Homo sapiens: one gene and its partner. The protein of the gene in region 1 interacts with the protein of each later gene in a pairwise test. Each region holds a gene or a part of one and is shown on either strand. Other genes may lie near its edges.

Region 1 (7,945 bases):
CTGAAAACACTTGGTTTGTCCAATCAATCTGATTATGCAGTCAATCCACTTCAGCCCCTTAAAAGGCCCCAACAACAAAGGGACTTTTGATGCAACTTTCCACTTTGTATACATGCGGCATTGGTCTTGAACACTCTGACTTTTTTTTTTTTTTTTTTTAAGATTCTGTAGGTTCTTGTCTTTCTCATCCTTTCTGTATTGCTCTCTGCCCATTTGGCTGGCTGTCCTCTGGCTTTCTGGGGACTCTGTGGATAATTTTTCCAGCAAAGAGCCCACATGGAGGGTTTAGACTAGAAGTGCTTCCTTCAGGGCCCAGGGCCTCCCATCAGCCTCACCTCTCTGCTCTGAAGTTTCATCCTCAACTTTTCTGCCCTGATTGACTGATTACAGCTTGGAGCCTGAAGTCAGACAGACCTGTTCCCATCCAGCTCCACCACTTGGCCAGGATATTATGCAAGTCTCTTAATCTTGAGCCTCAATTTCCTTAGCATACAAAACAGATAATGCCCATCTCGAAGGGTTATTGTGAAGAGTCAATGAAGTAACATAGGAAAACATGTTAAACCCCATACTGGGAGCATGATAGGGGCTCAATTCATATTAACTAAAATCTTCAAAAGGTGACCTGTGCTTTGGACATTTCCTTTGGCTCCAAGCCCTAGCTTAAGGCTTACTCTCTACTGTTATCTTCAGCATCTGTATTGCTTTTATTAAGTAATGACCTAAAACATACATGTGTTGTAATGAACATTTACACTGGCCAAGGGGGTTAATCATATTATTAGTAATCAGAATGATGGTGTGATGACAATACTAATTGCTGGCTGCTACAACCCTTCAAGAAACACAAAGTGCTTAAGAGAAGCCACTTTGATCATTTGAGATTGGGTTATGATCCTTTTTGATTTATGGTTTTCAATACTCATTCTCCTCTAAGATCTTGCCATAGGGGGTCTTGGGGAATCAGTGGCTGTGCAGAACCCATGGTTAGAGCTTCCCCAAGCTTTGTGTGTCTAGCCCACAGCACAAGAGGGGAGGAGTGGGAGCCTGGAAGATAGGGGCGGGGTGGGGACGGAATGGGACTACCTCCCCCAGCCTTGGGAGCATCACCACCAGAGCATGGATTAAAGTGAAGCGCATGGAGTTAAGGTTAAGTGCCAAGAACAGCTCTTGGACATGAAGGCAGAACTGAGACCTGGTGTTTTCTGAGTGTTCCCCAGTCAGCTCCGAGGCTCATGTAGAAAAGGAAGGATGGAGGGAAGGCGTTTGGCAGGACTTGTCAGCAGCAAGGATTTCCACACCCAGAGCTGGCAAGCTCCTCAGAGACTTAAGGATCCACCAGGGACTCTCACAGACACGGGAGAGGCTGGGGAGGAGACTGCTGGCATCAGGAAGCTTGGAGACTTGACCTTGCCTACTCATGCCACTTTGGTTTTGTATTTTGAGGCTTTTTTTCTTTTGGGGGAGTCGGGGAGGGGGTGTTGGGAGCCTACCTAGATGGCCGAACACTATAAATCTTGACTCAAGGTCTTGCTTTCCCCTCTTTTATTTAAGAGCTGTATGGCCTTAGGGAAGTTATGCAACCCCTCTGCTACCTCCTGTGAGGTTTCAGTATATGTCTATTTCAATCGCTTAAAGTAGTGCAGAGCACACTGAGTGTCTGGTCAGTGGTGGGGTTTATTATTCTCTTCTTGCCAGATCCTAAATCTACCCTAAGGTTTCATTCACATCCTTCAGACCAGAAAACACCATCAGACTCAGCAGGTGCCAGGGGGAGCCATAGGAAATTCTATCAGCTTCCTCCAGAGAACAGTCGTACCTTGGAATCTCTCAAAACTCACCTCTGCACCCTGCCCCATTTCCCAGCCCATTTTCCTAAGGTGAAGCAGAAGAGATCCTAATCAGATTGAGGTTTGACTGAGGAGGAATTTCCAAGTAGACAGGGAAGGAAAGGAGGTTGGAAGAGGAGTGGGGGCATCTGCTTCAGGGGAGGAAAGGGGAGAAGACTCCAGAATGTCAGCTGCCAGTTTAGAGACAGAGGGATGAGTAGGATAACCTATTCATGCAGATTCCAGGTGAGCTTGGATCTACTCACTGCCCTATTCACCTTAATTTCCAGAGACACTCTCAGTTCAGGCCACAATGTGTGCCTCCAAGCTCCCACCCCTAACTGCCTGTCTGTCAGTTTACATCCCTGGCACTGAGCATTCCCTGGGAAACGGAGAGCGAGAGACCAGATGATTTGGTGCCAGGAGTGGGAGGTGCCAGGATTCTTACAACCTGAAGTGTCTAGGGTTCCCTGACTTTCTGATATCCACAGCCTCTTTTTGCTGCATCCCATGGGTTCTATGGGTTCTCACTGCTCAAAGTATGGTCTGCAGACCAGCAGCAGCAGCATCACCTAGGAGCTTGTTAGAAGTGCAGAGTCAGCTGGGCGCGGTGGCTCACGCCTGTAATCCCAGCACTTTGGGAGGCCGAGGCAGGTGGATCACGAGGTCAGGAGATCGAGACCATCCTGGCTAACACAGTGAAACCCCATCTCTACTAAAAATACAAAAAATTAGCCGGGTGTGGTGGCGGGTGCCTGTAGTCCCAGCTACTCGGGATGCTGAGGCAGGAGAATGGCGTGAACCCGGGAGGCGGAGCTTGCAGTGAGCTGAGATTGCACCACTGCACTCCCGCCTGGGCAAAAGAGCAAGACTCTGTCTCAAAAAAAAAAAAAAAAAAAAAAAAGAAGTGCAGAGTCTTGGTTGGGCACGGTGGCTCACGCCTGTAATCCCAGTATTTTGGGAGGCCAAGGCGGGTGGATCACTTAAGGTCAGGAGTTTGAGACCAGCCTGGCCAACATAATGAAACCCCATTCCTACTAAAAATACAAAAATTAGCCAGTCGTGGTGATGGGTGCCTGTAGTCCTAGCTACTTGGGAGGCTGAGGTGGGAGAATTGCCTGTACCTGGAGGTTGCAGTGAGCTGAGATCATGCCACTGCACTGCAGCCTGGGTGACAGAGTGAGACTCTGTCTCAAAAAATAAATAAATAAATAAATAAATAATAGAAGTACAGAGTCTTAGGTCCCCCAAATCCCACTGAATCAGAATCCGTATTTTAAAGAGACCTTCAGATCATTCCTATTCGCATTAGAGTCTGAAAATCACCAACATAGATTTTTTTTTTTTTTAAGTCTTAAGGCAACTCAGTATATGAGAAAGTGCTATGGATTAGGAGTCAGGGGGCAGGGCAGCTAACTCACCACCTGTCTTTGGTCAAGTCATTTTCCCTGTCTGAGCCTCCTCTGGAAAGTGAGGAAGCAACTCCAGACAAATCCTCACATGCCCTCCAGACAAATCCTCACACGCCCTCCAGACCTCACAGCCTAATAAGTTCTCACTGAGACTACTGCACACTAACTCCACCAGAGATGGAGAGCCAGGCCCGGGTCACGTAACCCTGTTCACAGGCAGTCCTAAGCGCCCAGGAACCTCCCAATGCCCTGGCCCACCAGGAGCAGTTCCCATGTGCTGCATCCCCAAGGCAGCCTCTCCCAGTCCCTTTGCATATTGTTTCATCTTCCATTAGTTATAGTGGAAACCAGCCTTTTGCACCATCCAGAAGGCTTTCTGTTCCATCCAGAAGGCTTTAGAGCTTAGATATTTTGTTCTCTTTTCCTATATCAGGCAAGTCTATCTCACTAGGGCTCATTCCATAAACTCCCCACCCTTCTCAGCGGAGAACCACAAGATTCCCGGTTCCTGTCCATGGTTCACCAATTCAACAAATATCTATAAAGCACCTTTGAGTACGATGTCCTGTGCTACGATGGGATCTGGGGAGCCAGCAGAGGAGAACAAGACAGCTAGGGTTGCTGATCTCGGAGCTGACACTCTGAGCGGGATACAGATGTTCAACAAAGAAGACACTATCTATAAGTCCATTACCATTCATTCATTCGATCAGCAATCATTTATTGAACACCTATTTTGCGCCAGGCCCTTGGGACTGGCAAAAAAAAGCCCATAAAAATTCCTGCTCGTCTGGGCACGGTGGCTCACACCTGTAATCCTAGCACTTTGGGAGGCGGAGGCAGGCGGATCACCTGAGGTCAGGAGTTTGAGACCAACCTAGCCAACAGGGCGAAACCCTGTCTCTACTAAAAATACAAAAATACGCTGGGCATGGTGGTGGGCACATGTAATCCCATCTACTCAGGAGGCTGAGGCAGAAGAATCGCTTGAACCTGGGAGGCAGAGGTTGCAGTGGGCCGAGATCTCACCACTATACTCCAGCCTGGGTGACAGAGCGAGACTCCATCTCAAAAAAACAAACAAACAAACAAAAAAACCAAATTCCTGCTCTTCTCAAATGTCAAATTGTTTGAAATACAGTAAAGGCGGCCAGGTGCAGTGGCTCACACTTGTAATCCCAGCACTTTGGGAGGCCGAGGTGGGCGGATCACGAGGTCAGGAGTTCGAGACCAGCCTGGCCAACATGGTGAAACCCCATCTCTACTAAAAATAAAAAATAAAAAAAATTAGCTGGGCGTGATGGCATGCACCTGTAATCCCAGCTACTCGGGAGGCTGAGGCAGGAGAATTGCTTGAATCTAGGAGGCGGAGGTTGCAGTGAGCCGAGATCACCCCATTGCACTCCAGCCTGGGCGACAGGGTGAGACTCTGTCTCAAAAAAAATAAAAAAAGAAAGAAAGAAAGAAAAAAAAGAAATACTGTAAAGGCACAGGTATGTGTATATGCCACCTCCTTCCCACTCAAGATTTAGAATGAGCCCATGATTAATTACATTTCCTTTTGTCTTCTCTTGGGAAAAACTCCAATCCTGTTAAGCCCTAAGAAGAGATCTCATTCTCTGTCTAAATCCCCCAGCAGGGGCAGGATATAGGACCCTTTGCACTTCTCTCCATCTATATAAGTAGCTCAGCCGGAAGCCCTGAGTCCGAGTCAGCCCTGGGCAGCGGGGAGGTCCCCAGAGGGGGCTGGGCCCTGTCTGGGTATGGGGAAGCTTGCTGCCTCTGGTTCCCTTTTCTCCCCTTCACTGGCAACCTCTTGTCCCTTCCCTTTTCTCTCTTTCTTTCCTGACCCTCTCCCTTCCTTCCTTCTTTCCCTCCATTTTTCCTTCCTCTTTCACTGTCCTCCCCTCTGCCTCCTTCCTTCCCTTCCTCTTAAGTGGTGACCATTTCCCCAAGGCCCAGACACAGCCCATCTCGCCGGAGTGGACCATGCACTGCAGCTGCTTGGCTGAGGGCATCCCAGCCAACCCCGGCAACTGGATCTCAGGTGAGCCTCTTGGCCGGGCCTACCCCCTGCTCCAACGGTGGCCTAGGGCAGGGCCTCCAGAGCCCTCACTCTCCCCTCTCCACCCAGGGTTGGCCTTCCCTGATTGGGCCTACAAAGCCGAGTCGTCCCCAGGCTCCCGGCAGATCCAGCTGTGGCACTTCATCCTGGAGCTGCTGCAGAAGGAAGAGTTCCGCCATGTCATCGCCTGGCAGCAGGGAGAGTACGGGGAATTTGTCATCAAGGATCCAGATGAGGTGGCCCGCCTCTGGGGCCGCAGGAAATGCAAACCACAGATGAATTATGACAAGCTGAGCCGGGCCCTCAGGTGAGAGGAGGCGGCTGACATGGCCAAAGAGGGGGGATTTCAAGGAAAAGGGCCGTGGTTTCTGGTACCCCTGCTGACTCCCACCCCTCCAAGGCTTGGGAAGTGTCCTGGCCTGTGGTGAGCAGCCTAGTGGTTCTCGGGGAACAGCTTAGGGTCAGCCCGGCTAGGGAGGAGAATGTGACTGGGTCCCTGACTCTATTCTCTGACTGCTGGGCCAACTCTATTCTCAACTTCGAATTCTCCAGATATTACTACAATAAGAGGATCCTGCATAAGACCAAAGGCAAAAGGTTCACATACAAGTTCAACTTCAGCAAGCTCATCGTAGTCAACTATCCTTTGTGGGAAGTGCGGGCGCCGCCATCCCCCCACTTGCTGCTGGGGGCCCCTGCCCTGTGTCGGCCAGCGCTGGTGCCCGTGGGTGTGCAGAGTGAGGTAAGAGCGGAGGTGGCCCCTGTCTCAGGGCTCCACCAGGTCCTACCCCTCTGCCCAGGAGGCTCCCCACCCTCCTCTTTGCCTCTGGGGCCCATCAGCCTCCAGTTTTCTTCTCCTCCTGCATCCTAGACCCTGAGTGCCCCAGAGGCAGGGGTATTAACAATCCAGGTGGTACAGGACCCACCTGTGAGAAAGGGTGGCTCCTTCTGTCCTAGTCGCCACTCCTTTAGGGGTGGATCAGAGGGAAGGGCCCAGGGCATCTGAGACTGTAGGCAGCCGTGGCAGTGGGCTTTTAACAATGGGTATGAGAGGCCAGGCGTGGTGGCTCACACCTGTAATCCCAGCACTTTGGGAGGACGAGGTGGACGGATCATTTGAGGTCAGGAGTTCGAGACCAGCCTGGACAACGTGGCAAAACCCCATCTCCAATAAAAATATAAAAGTAGCTGGGCATGGTGGCACATGTCTGTAATCCCAGCTACTAGGGAGGCTGAGGCAGGAGAATCGCTTGAACCCAGGAGGCAGAGGTTGCAGTGAGCCAGGATGGCGCCACTGCACTCCAGCCTGGGTGACAGAGCAAGACTCCAACTCAAAAAAAAAAAAATCGGTATGAGAGTATTTCATTGTTTTAGCAACTGGCTAACAGTACCAGATTGTACTGGAGGATACATGCCAAGGAGAGCCCATCACACCTCGCACCTACTTCTCACCCCTCAGCTCCTGCACAGCATGCTATTTGCCCATCAGGCCATGGTGGAGCAGCTGACAGGACAGCAGACCCCCCGAGGGCCACCAGAGACCTCTGGGGATAAGAAGGGGAGCAGCAGCAGCGTCTACCGTGAGTGCTCAAGGCTGGGAGGGCCCAGGGGGATCTTAGCCAGAGGAGGGAGGGCCCTCCTGGCTGAGTACATGGCTGAGGGGGCATGAGACAAGGGATACTATGTAACTCATTCATTCATTCGACCAACATTTATTGAACACCAGCTATTTACTAAGTGCGGGGGTTCAGAGATGAAAGGCTCAAGAGGCTCAGAACCTAGTGGGGAGCAGAGATGGGATTACTGCCAGCGACTGCTGCTGGCATTCAGGTAAGCACTAGGTGCTGTGCATTCAGGCCCAGAGAAGGAACTGGGGCTTCCCAGAGGACACAACACTGGGGCAGGTGAAGGAGGTGGGAAAAGATGCCTAAGCAGAGGGAATAGCATTTATTTATTCTTTTTTTTTTTTTTTTTTTTGAGACGGAGTCTCAGTGTTGCCCAGGCTGGAACACAGTGGCAGGATCTCAGCTCACTGCAGCCTCTGCCTCCCAGGTTCAAGTGATTCTCATGCCTCAGCCTCCTGAGTAGCTGGGACTACAGACATGCACCACCACGCCCAGCTAATTTTTGTATTTTTAGTAAAGACGGGGTTTCACCATGTTGGCCAGGCTGGTCTCAAACTCCTGACCTCAGGTGATCCACCCGCCTCAGCCTCCCAAACTGCTGGGATTACAGGTGTGAGACACCACACCCAGTCAGAAATAGCATTTATAAAGCAAAAAGCTGTGAACAAGTGTAGCAAATCTGGAGAACAGCTGGTAGTTTGCTGTTGGAGAGCAAGTCTTGCGATGCGGTGGGAACAAGCAGGACGGATGAGAGACAGGGCTGGCAAGGCAAACAGGTGTCAGGCCACAGAGGCCGCACAAGCCATGCTAAGGGAGCAGGACTTTCTCCTGTGGGCAGGAGGGACTGGGAGGGAGATCCATGGTCAGACTTTCATTTTATTTTACTTTCTTTTATTATTTTTTGAGATGGCGTTTTGCTCTTGCTGCCCAGGCTGGAGTGCAATGGCACAATCTCGGCTCACTGCAACCTCCGTCTCCTGGGTTCAAGCGATTCTCATGCCTCAGCCTCCCAAG
Region 2 (10,352 bases), on another chromosome or scaffold:
TGGGGGCCCCGCCCGGACCGCAGTGGGGAGAGGCCGCCCCATGCCCCGCCCCGCCAAATTTAAGAGCCTTCGCCGAGCGCCAGGAGGTTCCCAGACAACCGGTCTTGCTCGCTGCCTTTTGCAGAATCTTCTCACTTCTCCCGAGCTCCCTTCCTTGCGTCCGTCCGGGCAACGGCCGCGTCATGCCTAGCCCCAGGCCGCGAGGCAGCCCGCCACCCGCTCCCTCGGGCTCTCGGGTCCGACCTCCGCGCTCTGGCCGCTCTCCGGCGCCCAGGTCCCCTACTGGCCCGAACACGCCCCGCGCTCCCGGACGCTTCGAGTCCCCTTTCTCGGTCGAGGCCATCCTGGCGAGGCCCGACCCCTGCGCGCCGGCGGCCTCCCAGCCGTCGGGCTCCGCCTGCGTCCACCCGGCCTTCTGGACCGCTGCTTCCCTGTGCGCCACCGGGGGTCTGCCCTGGGCTTGCCCGACATCGTGGCTGCCCGCCTACCTGAGCGTAGGTTTTTACCCTGTGCCAGGGCCGCGCGTGGCTCCCGTCTGCGGCCTGCTGGGCTTCGGCGTCACAGGTACTGCGGTCCCGGCGCCCGCACGCGGGGGACTGGGCGGGGGCTGGAGAGCCTAGGTCGCCACTGCCGGCGCCCCAGTGCAGGAGAGGGCACTGAGTGTGAGAATCACACACGGCTGGAGTGGGAAGGGGCTCTGCCACCGTTTACCTTGCAGTTGAAGCCGAGGACCGCGACAGTCTTGCTGAAAAAGACCCCGGCGCGAGGCTTCCCCCGCACGCTGCTGAGGTGGGAGAGGGTGGGTGTGAGGGCGGCGCAGCGCCTGAATGCGGTGGGCAGGAGGCCAGCGCTGGGGCTGCAAGGGGACCCAGCCCTGCTCCCGGTCTCCGCGTCCCTTGACTCCCTCGCACACCCCGGGGTAGCGCTTAGTGACAGAGACGCTTCCCAAAGCGGCTCTCGACCCGAACCAATGGCCCTGTTTTTTTTTTTTACGGGGTAGGGGGAAGTGGACGCTCCGGGCGGTGCTGTTGAGCGAGGAGCTGTTAGGAGCTGGTCAAGGCTCACACCCCACTACCGCCTCCACTGCTCACGTCTGTGAACTTGAGCTACACACTTCGCTCTGAGCCTGCGTGCATGCAATGCTCTTAAGTAGTGCTTAAGGGCCAGGCACTTAAATCTCATGAGAAAGTAATTGTAAGGTTGGGCGCGGTGGCTCACGCCTGTAATTTCAGCACTTTGGAAGACCGAGGCGGGTGGATCACCTGAAGTCAGGAGTTCAAGGCCAGCCTGGCCAACATGGTGAAACCACATCTTTACTTAAAAGACAAAAAATTGGCCGGGCGCGGTGGCTCACGCCTGTAATCCCAGCACTTTGGGAGGCCGAGACGGGCGGATCACGAGGTCAGGAGATCGAGACCATCCTGGCTAACACGGTGAAACCCCGTCTCTACTAAAAATACAAAAATTAGCCGGGCATGGTGGCGCGTGCCTGTAGTCCCAGCTACACAGGAGGCTGAGGCAGGAGAATGGCGTGAACCCGGGAGGCGGAGCTTGCAGTGAGTCGAGATCGCGCCACTGCACTCCAGCCTGGGCGACAGAGCGAAACTCCGTCTCAAAAAAAAAAAAAAAAAAAAAGACAAAAAATTAGGAGGGCGTGGTGGCGCGCGCTTGTAATCCCAGCTACTCAGGAGGCTAAAGCAGGAGAATCACTTGAACCCGGGAGGTTGAGGTTGCATTAAGCCGAGATTGCGCCACTGCACTCTAGCCTGGGCAACAGAGTGAGACTCCGTCTCAAACAAACAAATCAACAAAAAAAAGTAACTATAGAGGGAACTTTGCCTTCTAGCATTAAACATCCACCTACACGTGCTTTTGCCATTTTTGGTTGCCAGGTTCATGTTTCCCCATGTCCCCACGAAGAAAACAGGAGCAAAGTTAGTCCAAGCCTTATCAACCCATACAAAGATAGTTGTAACACAGTCTTGCCGGGTTCCTACTCCGTGGCACCCACCCCAATCCTGCATTTCCTCACCCCATTTCAGCAGTGCATTAACCCTTGGACTCGCAGCCCCATCTAAATTCAATACCACTGGATCTGGGAGCTGTGCCCATCACTCCCAGTCACCTTTCTCTGAGCTCTTCACACACCTGAGGTCTGAATTACAGTTTACTACTTCATGTTACAGTTGCCTCATTTTCAAGTTAGTTGTTTTCTTTTGTTCTGTTTTGTTTTGTTTTGAGACGGAGTCTCACTCTGTCTCCCAGGCTGGAGTGCAGTGGCGCTATCTCTGCTCACTACAACCTCCTCCTTCCGGTCTCAAGTGATTCTCCTGCCTTAGCCTCTGGAGTGGCTGGAATTACAAGCCCCAGCACCATGCCCGGCTAATTTTTTTTATTTTTTTATTTTTTTTTTTTGAGGCGGAGTCTTGCTCTGTCCTTAGGCTGGAGTGCAGTGGTGCAATCTCGGCTCACTGCAAGCTCCGCCTCCCGGGTTCACGCCATTCTCCTGCCTCAGCCTCCCGAGTAGCTGGTACTGCAGGCACATGCCGCCACACCTGGCTAATTTTTTGTATTTTTAGTAGAGACGGGGTTTCACCATGTTAGCCAGGATGGTCTTGATCTCCTGACCTCGTGATGTATTTCTTTTTCTGTGAACTACTGTTCTTGTATTTTGCCCATATGTATAGTTGGTTATTTAAAACAATCTATTTGTAGATGCTCTTTTCTATTGAGGAAATTAGCCCTGGCTGGGTGCAGTGGCTCACCCCTGTAACTCCCTCACTTTGGGAGGCCAAGGCGGGTGGACTACTTCAGCTCAGGAGTTGAGACCAGCCTGGGCAACATGGCAAAACCCCGTCTCTACTAAAAACACAAAAATTAGCTGGGCATGGTGGTGCGCACCTTGGCGGGGGCTGAAGTGGGAGGATTGCTTGTGCCTGGGAGGCAGAGGTTGCAGTGAGCCGAGGTCAAGCCACTGAACTCCAGCCTGGGCAACAGAACAAGACACTGTCTCAAAAAATTAAAAAAGAAATTAGCCCTTTAACTGTAATGAACTACAAATGTTTTTCTGTGTATTGGCCTTTGACTTTGATTATGGCGGTATTCTTTTGTTACATAGAAAAAATTTTAATTTTTATGTTTGATGTGTTTTTACAAATCCTTTTTTTTTTCTTTTTTGAGACAGGTTCTCTGTCACTCATGCTGGAGTGCAGTGGTGCGATCACGGCTCACTGCAGCCTCAATGTTCCAGGCTTAAGCACTCCTCCTTAGCTTCCTGAGTAGCAGGGACCACAGGCATGCGCTACCATACTCAACTAATTTAAAACATTTTTTTTTGTAGAGATGGAATCTCACAATGCCTGTCTCAGCCTCCCGAGTAGCAGGGACCACAGGCATGCGCTACCATACTCGACTAATTTAAAACATTTATTTTGTAGAGATGGAATCTCACAATGTTACCCAGGCTGATCTTGAACTCCTGGGCTCAAGTGATCCTCCTGCCTCAGCCTCCCAAACTGCTGGGATTACAGGCATGAGCCACTGTGCCTGGCCCCACATCTTATATGATACTTGGAAAGAACTTCCTCACTGTGAAGTCATAAAATAACTTCCCCATTTTTTTCTAAATTTTTGTGGGTTTACCTTTTTACATTTAAATATTTCCTCCATTTAGATTTTTTTTAGTGCAAGGTATTGGGTATGGATCCAGCTTAATTTTTCCCAGATCTGGAAATAATCCCTCTTCCCCATTGGATTATCACTTCTGTTTTAATTTTTATAATAACCATTGACTTTCTTCTTGCTCTGTGCCTGGCACAGTGCTAAGCACCCTGTAAGCATCATATGCTTTTGTTTTTGTTGTTGTGGTAGTTGTTGTTGTTGAGACGGGGTCTTACTCTATTGGCAAGGAGTGATCTCGGCTTGGCTCACTACAACCTCTGCCTCCCGAGCTCAAGTGATCCTCCTGCTTCAGTCTCCCAAGCAGCGGGGTCTACAGTTGTGCACCACCACACCTGACTAATTTTTGTATTTTTTGTAGAGATAGGGTTTTACCATGTTGCCCAGGGTGGTCTCAAACTCCTGGGCTCAAGCGATGGGCCCATCTCAGTCTCTCAAAGTGCTGGGATTATAGGCATGAGCCACTGTGCCTAGACAGCACCATGTTAAAATCCTGACATCTCTGGAAGTAGGGATTATTATCACCATTTTACATGTGAGGAAATCAAGGCTCACAGAAGTACATTGTCTTGCCCAAGGTCCTCTGGCTGGTAATTGGTGGCAGAGCTAGGATTCCAACTAGAGCTTTTTTTTTTTTTTTTTTTTTTTTTAAGACAGAGTCTCACTCTATCACCCAGGCTGGAATACAGTGGCACAACCTTGGCTCACTGCAACTTCCGCCTTCCAGGTTCAAGCGATTCTCCTGCCTCAGCCTCCTGAGTAGCTGGGATTACAGGTGCCCACCACCACATCTGGCTAATTTTTGTATTTTTAGTAGAGACGGGGTTTCGCCAAGTTGGCCAGGCTGGTCTTGAACTCCTGACTTCAGGCTATCCGCCTGCCTCAGCCTCCCAAAGTGCTGGGATTACAGGTATAAGCCACCATGCCCGGCCTCAACTAGAGCTCTTAAGGAACACACAGTACAGCCTACTTTCTTCTCCAAAGGTCAATTTCTGATTCTGAAACAAGGCTGACTAGATACACCAGGCTGTATGTCTGATGGGCTTTTCCTGATCTTTTGGTCTACCTTGGCAGGCACAGTGTAAGCCTAGTGGGCCCAGTGGTTGGAGTCCTAAGCAGCCGGGACCCCAGATACACTCCCTTTGTTGGGGCAGTCTGTCTGCCAGCCCTGAGGACTCCCCAAGGCTAGTGGGGGCTGAGTGGCCTTAGCATTATGCTTGCCATTCTTCTGCCTAGAATACTATACCCCCAGATAGCCCAATGGCTCACTCCCTCATCCCCATCAAGATTTGACTTAGGAACTGCTCTTGGTTGATGCATCTCCACTGGCCCACAGCTTGGTCTCATTTATTCCCGTGGCTTAAAATACCATCTATATAAGCTGATGACTCCCAATTTTTTTTTTAATTGAGACAGAGTCTTGCACTGTCACCCAGGATGGAGTAGAGTGGGCTCTATCTTGGCTCACTGCAACCTCTGCTTCCCGGACTCAAGCAGTTCTCCTGCCTCAGCCTCCTGAGTAGCTGGGATTACAGGCATGTGCCACCATGCCTGGCTAATTTTTGTATTTTTAGTAGAGACGGGGTTTCACCATGTTGGCCAGGCTGGTCTTGAACTCCTGATCTCAAGCGATCCGCCCCCTTCAGCCTCCCAAAGTGCTGGAATTACAGGCATGAGCCAACGTGCTCAGTGATGACTCCCAAATTTGTATCCTCAGCTCAACCCTCTCTTCTGACTTCTATCTCTTCTGACCTCATTTCTAAGATGTAAGCTCCATAACGACAGAGATTTTCTGTTTTGTCCTGAAACCATGCATGACACACAGTAGACATTCAAAAAGTATAATATTTGTTCAGTGAATTAAAAGGGTGAACCCCTGGGGGTCTCTTCTCTGCCCATTCCATGGCGTTGCCAGAAGCAGTCAAGGAGAGGAAAGGAAGGCAAAGAGAAGGGAGGTTTGGCAACTCCTCTTAGGGGCCAGAAGTGAAGCCACTTGGCTAGAGAGTAGTGGTGGCAGACAGTCTCATTGCATTGTCCCTTCTTTCCCATTTGTTTGTTTCCTGTTATTTCTGCACAGTCTCTTTCCACTGTCTTCTTGCACTGTTACCTGGCCAAGGGGAAGGCAAGGTAGCAGAGCTGTGTGTGCCTTCTCATTTTGCCCAGATGGGAGTGCAGGGGGCTTCTGGCTAACCTCCCCTGCTGCTGGATAACCTCCCCTGCTGCTGGTTGCTCTTTAGGGTTGGAGCTGGCTCACTGCTCAGGACTCTGGGCCTTCCCAGACTGGGCCCCAACGGAGGACCTACAGGACACTGAGAGACAGCAAAAGAGAGTCCGAACTATGTTTAACTTGGAGCAGCTGGAAGAGTTGGAGAAAGTGTTTGCAAAACAGCACAATCTGGTGGGGAAGAAGAGAGCCCAGCTGGCAGCTCGGCTCAAACTTACAGAGAACCAGGTGGGAGTAGGGACTCCTATTGGGCCTGGGCTGCACCTGGGGACAAACACTACCTCAGCAAGGCCCTAAAAGGAGGGTGGGAGGAAGATATGGGCCCTCTTCCCTGTGCCAGGCTGTTGAGGGGACAGGCCCTGACTTTTTGCACACTCTATATAATGAAAAAAAAAAGTCCCATTTGAAGTCACATAATGTGAACAACTTGGAATGTTAACTTAGATTATTAGTCTAAAAATTGATAATAAAGGATTTCCATGCTAAATAAGGACCTGCCAGTAAAATTAAGTAGATGTGGCCAGGTGCGGTGGCTCACGCCTCTAATCCCAGCACTTTGGGAGGCTGAGGTGGGCAGATCACAAGGTCAGGAGTTCAAGACCAGCCCAGCCAACATAGTGAAACCCTGTCTCTACTAAAAATACAAAAAAATCAGCTGGGTGCCTATAATCCCAGCTACTTAGGAGGCCGATGCAGGAGAATCGCTTGAGCCTGGGAGGCAGAGGTTGCAGTGAGCGGAGATCACGCCACTGCACTCCAGCTTGGGCAACATTTGGAGAGCCCGTCTCAAAAAAAAAAAAAAAAAAGAAGAAGAAGAAAAAAATTAAGTAGATATTAAAGAGTCAATATAATCAATATTTCTTTGACCCCTATATTCCTCTCTAGCTATTATATAATTTCTCTGCTCCTTTTACAGGCAAACTTCTCAACAACTTGCCATGTTCACTTTGTCCGTGTCCTCGCCTCCCACTCACTGCTTCACACATTCCAACATGACTTTTCCCTACCATTCCATCAAAACTTCTCAGCAAGGTCTCTAATAACCTCCATGTTGCCAGAGCCAACAATATGACACTTTCCTTTCTTCAGCTCAGTCCACCACTCAGCAGCTCTTAGTACTGGACAGTCAGCCACCCCATCCCTTATTGAAACATGTTCCTCATAGCCTCCAGACACCATGCTGTCTAGTTTTCCTCCCAGCTCTGCCTCCTTGGCAGGCTACTCTTCCCTTGGGGACCTCGAAATCTCTTCCCAGCTGGTCTCATCTATTCCCGTGGCTTAAAATACCATCTATAAGCCAATGACTCCCAAATTTGTATCCTCAGCACAACCATCTCATCTGACTTATATCTCTAACTACCTTCTTGGTGATTCCACTTAGATGTCTCATGGGCACATATCTCAAACCCAAGTCTAAACCTCAATTCCTGACTTTTTTCTTGCCCAAATATGTTCCTTTCCCATATATGACCCCACCGTCCACCTGGTTACTCAAAAACCCAATCATCCTAGATTCCTCCTTCTCCTCCGCTTCCAACCATCATTGAGCCTTGTCATCTCTACCTCCAAAATACAGCTGGAGTGGCTTCACTTCTCTCTGTCACCCCTAATGTACGCCCCAGCTCTCCCGGGGCCGCTGCAGTAGCCTCCCTCCTGTCTTCCTGCTTCTGCTGCCATCCATGCTTCACACAGCAGCTAGGTGCACAGTGCACTTCAGATGTAAATAGGATTATGTGGGCCCACGTAAAAGCCTCATGGGTGACATTCCTTATCTATGGCCTTCCAGGTCCTGGGTGATCTGGCACCCGCTGACCTCTCCCATTTCCCTCCCTTGACTTTCTCCTCTCACTGTCATCCGTGCTCTCCTCCTTCCTGGTCCTCAAACACTCCAAGCTTGGTTCCATTTCAGAGCCTTCCTACAGGTTGTTCCCTGCCCTGCAGACCTGCTCTTCTCTGTCCCCATCAGGTGGGCCTCTCTCTCTTTGAGCCTCAGCTTTAATGCTGGCTCCTTAGGGAGGCCTCCTCTGCCCAAACCCCTGTTTGTACCCCCTTTTGTGTTTACATAGCTCTTTGTTTGTTTACATGTTTCTTGCCAGTGTTTCTTCACTAGCTCATGAGCTCCACGAGGGCAGGCAGCTTGCCTCTGTTGCTCACCACTGTATCAGCATCACCTAGGATGGTGCTTAGCACATACTGGAAACTCAGTAAATACTCAGATGAATGAATGGTGTCTGGAATTGTAGAAAGGGGTGTTTTGGAGGAGGTACCTCCCTGAGAAGGAAGAGCAAATATTGGCCAGGCAGAGAGGGGTGTTCACTCCAGGAATTAGGAAGCAGTGGGACCTGATGGTCACATTCTGATCTCTGCCCACTCTCCAATTATAGGTGAGAGTCTGGTTCCAGAACCGCAGGGTCAAGTATCAGAAGCAGCAAAAGCTGAGGGCAGCAGTTACATCTGCCGAGGCTGCCTCCCTGGATGAGCCTTCCAGCAGCTCCATCGCCAGTATCCAGAGTGATGATGCCGAGTCAGGAGTGGACGGCTGAAGACTGGGACAGAGGCCCTAGCCAGGCTGCCTGGACTAGTTCCTCCTGGGGGTACCCACTGGAGCTCCCTGCCTCACACCTCAACGAAAAGCCTCCTCAACCAGAAGAATCTGAGCTGTCAAGCAGGGACCCCCTTTTCTATACTGATTCCTGGAAACTGGAATAATGTAATGATTGGAGGCACAGACTCTGGCCTTCAGCTATGTCCTTGGCCAACCTATGGAACTTCCGAGCCTTTTTTCTTTATCTGTATAATGGGTGCATTCATAACTTAGATCACCCAGGGGTGAGAAGATGTCTGTAAAGCAATAATGTGCCATGCACAGTGCAAAGTGTGTGGTTACTGTTAAGGCTTGTAGGCCCCTGAGTAGAGAAGACCAACTGGAAAAAAAAAAGTTTTTTTCTTCTGCTGTCACCCCACAACAATCAACACAGAACACTTCTGTGACCAAACGTATAGGGGTGTACCCCACATTCCAACCTCCAGTTCAGCAAATTCTGACATGATCTACCTGCAGGTAGTGTCTGACCCCACAGATTCAGGGCTCATTCCACATGGCAGCCCCTCCTTTCTTTTTTTTTTGAGACAGACTGCAGTGGCGCGATCTTGGCTCACCGCCACCTCCGCCTCCCGGGTTCAAGCGATTCTCCTGCCTCAGCCTCCCGAGCAGCTGGGACTATAGGCGCATGCCACCATGCCTGGCTAATTTTTATATTTTTAGTAGAGACGGGGTTTCATCATATGGTCAGGCTGGTCTTGAACTGCTGACCTTGTGATCCACCCACCTCGGCCTCCCAAAGTGCTGGGATTACATGTGTGAGCCACCACCCGGCCCAACCCTGCCCTTTTTGTTTTTTATGGAGTCTTAAGGTCTACCAGTCATCAGTCAACTCATTAGCATATGAAAAGACATCACTTCAGAGATTCTAGGGATTTTAGGAGTTCTATGCCAGGAAATCGAGATGAAGACCAAATATATATTTCATAATATCACAGCTCCCCTCACCTGGGGGAGTAATACCTGTACCAGCAATTAATATTTTCCTGGCCTGGCTGTGGAGAAGGAACCTCTTTGAATAAGCATCTGGGCATAGAAGACTCTTCACCATCAGAAGGAGTTGAGAGCAAAGAAGAGAAGGTAGACTGTTTAGCCCACTTCACAAAGTTTCCCAACGTTTTCTTGTTTTGTCTGAACTGTTACCATTCTCAGAAGAAGCTCAGGCCCAGCAGCAAAGACAAGGACTCGCTCTGTCACCCAGACTGGAGTGCAGTGGTGCAATCATAGCTCACGGCAGCCTCAACCTCCTGGGCTCTAGTGATCCTCCCACCTTAGCCTCCTAAGCAGCTGGGACTACAGGCGCGTGACACCACGCCTGGCTAATTTTTAACATTTTTTGTAGAGACAACGTCCACTTGTTGCCCAGGCTGGTCTTGAATTCCAGGCTTCAAGTGGTTCTCCTGCCTTGGCCTCCCAAAGCCCCATCTTTTTATAGAATAATTTGTGTATGCCAAGGCTGGCATTTTGTCATAAACTCTGCTGTGTTTTCACAGGACAGTTATAATTTCCCCCTTTCATGACTCTGACTCATGGCTCCTTTTTCTTCTCAAGAATGTGCTCGATTTCTCTGAAAGAAGCCTGCTGCCAGGATTTGCAGAGCTGATTTCTGTAGCACAGACCATTCAGATTCTAGAATGGCTCTTGGGGACTGAGCTGAGGGATGGAAGGAAGCCTGCCCTGCCACCTGGTGGTGAGTGAGGGCACGGCCCCCAGCTGCTCTCGGGTAGGTTTGCCCCCAAGTACGTGGACTATTCGCTCCCTGACACCGGGCTGCAGGCTTGAGGGGACCCAGGGTCGGTTTCAAGAGCCTCTTCTCTGGCCCTGCCAACTATCTATCTCCCCCAAGTC

What was found.
Region 2: the proteins of ETV3L (region 1) and NOTO interact in binary tests that used the Homo sapiens proteins (3 or more experiments, as listed by UniProt).

Annotation. Positions count from the first base shown.
Region 1 is NC_000001.11:157,096,809-157,104,753, reverse strand, and holds the start of ETV3L (ETS translocation variant 3-like protein), read left to right. Parts: upstream 1-4,945; 5' UTR 4,946-5,230; coding exon 5,231-5,288; intron 5,289-5,375; coding exon 5,376-5,613; intron 5,614-5,858; coding exon 5,859-6,048; intron 6,049-6,765; coding exon 6,766-6,886; intron 6,887-7,945. UniProt on the Homo sapiens protein: Transcriptional regulator.
Region 2 is NC_000002.12:73,202,485-73,212,836, forward strand, and holds NOTO (homeobox protein notochord), read left to right. Parts: upstream 1-89; 5' UTR 90-182; coding exon 183-564; intron 565-5,915; coding exon 5,916-6,130; intron 6,131-8,286; coding exon 8,287-8,445; 3' UTR 8,446-10,029; downstream 10,030-10,352. UniProt on the Homo sapiens protein: Transcription regulator acting downstream of both FOXA2 and Brachyury (T) during notochord development. Required for node morphogenesis.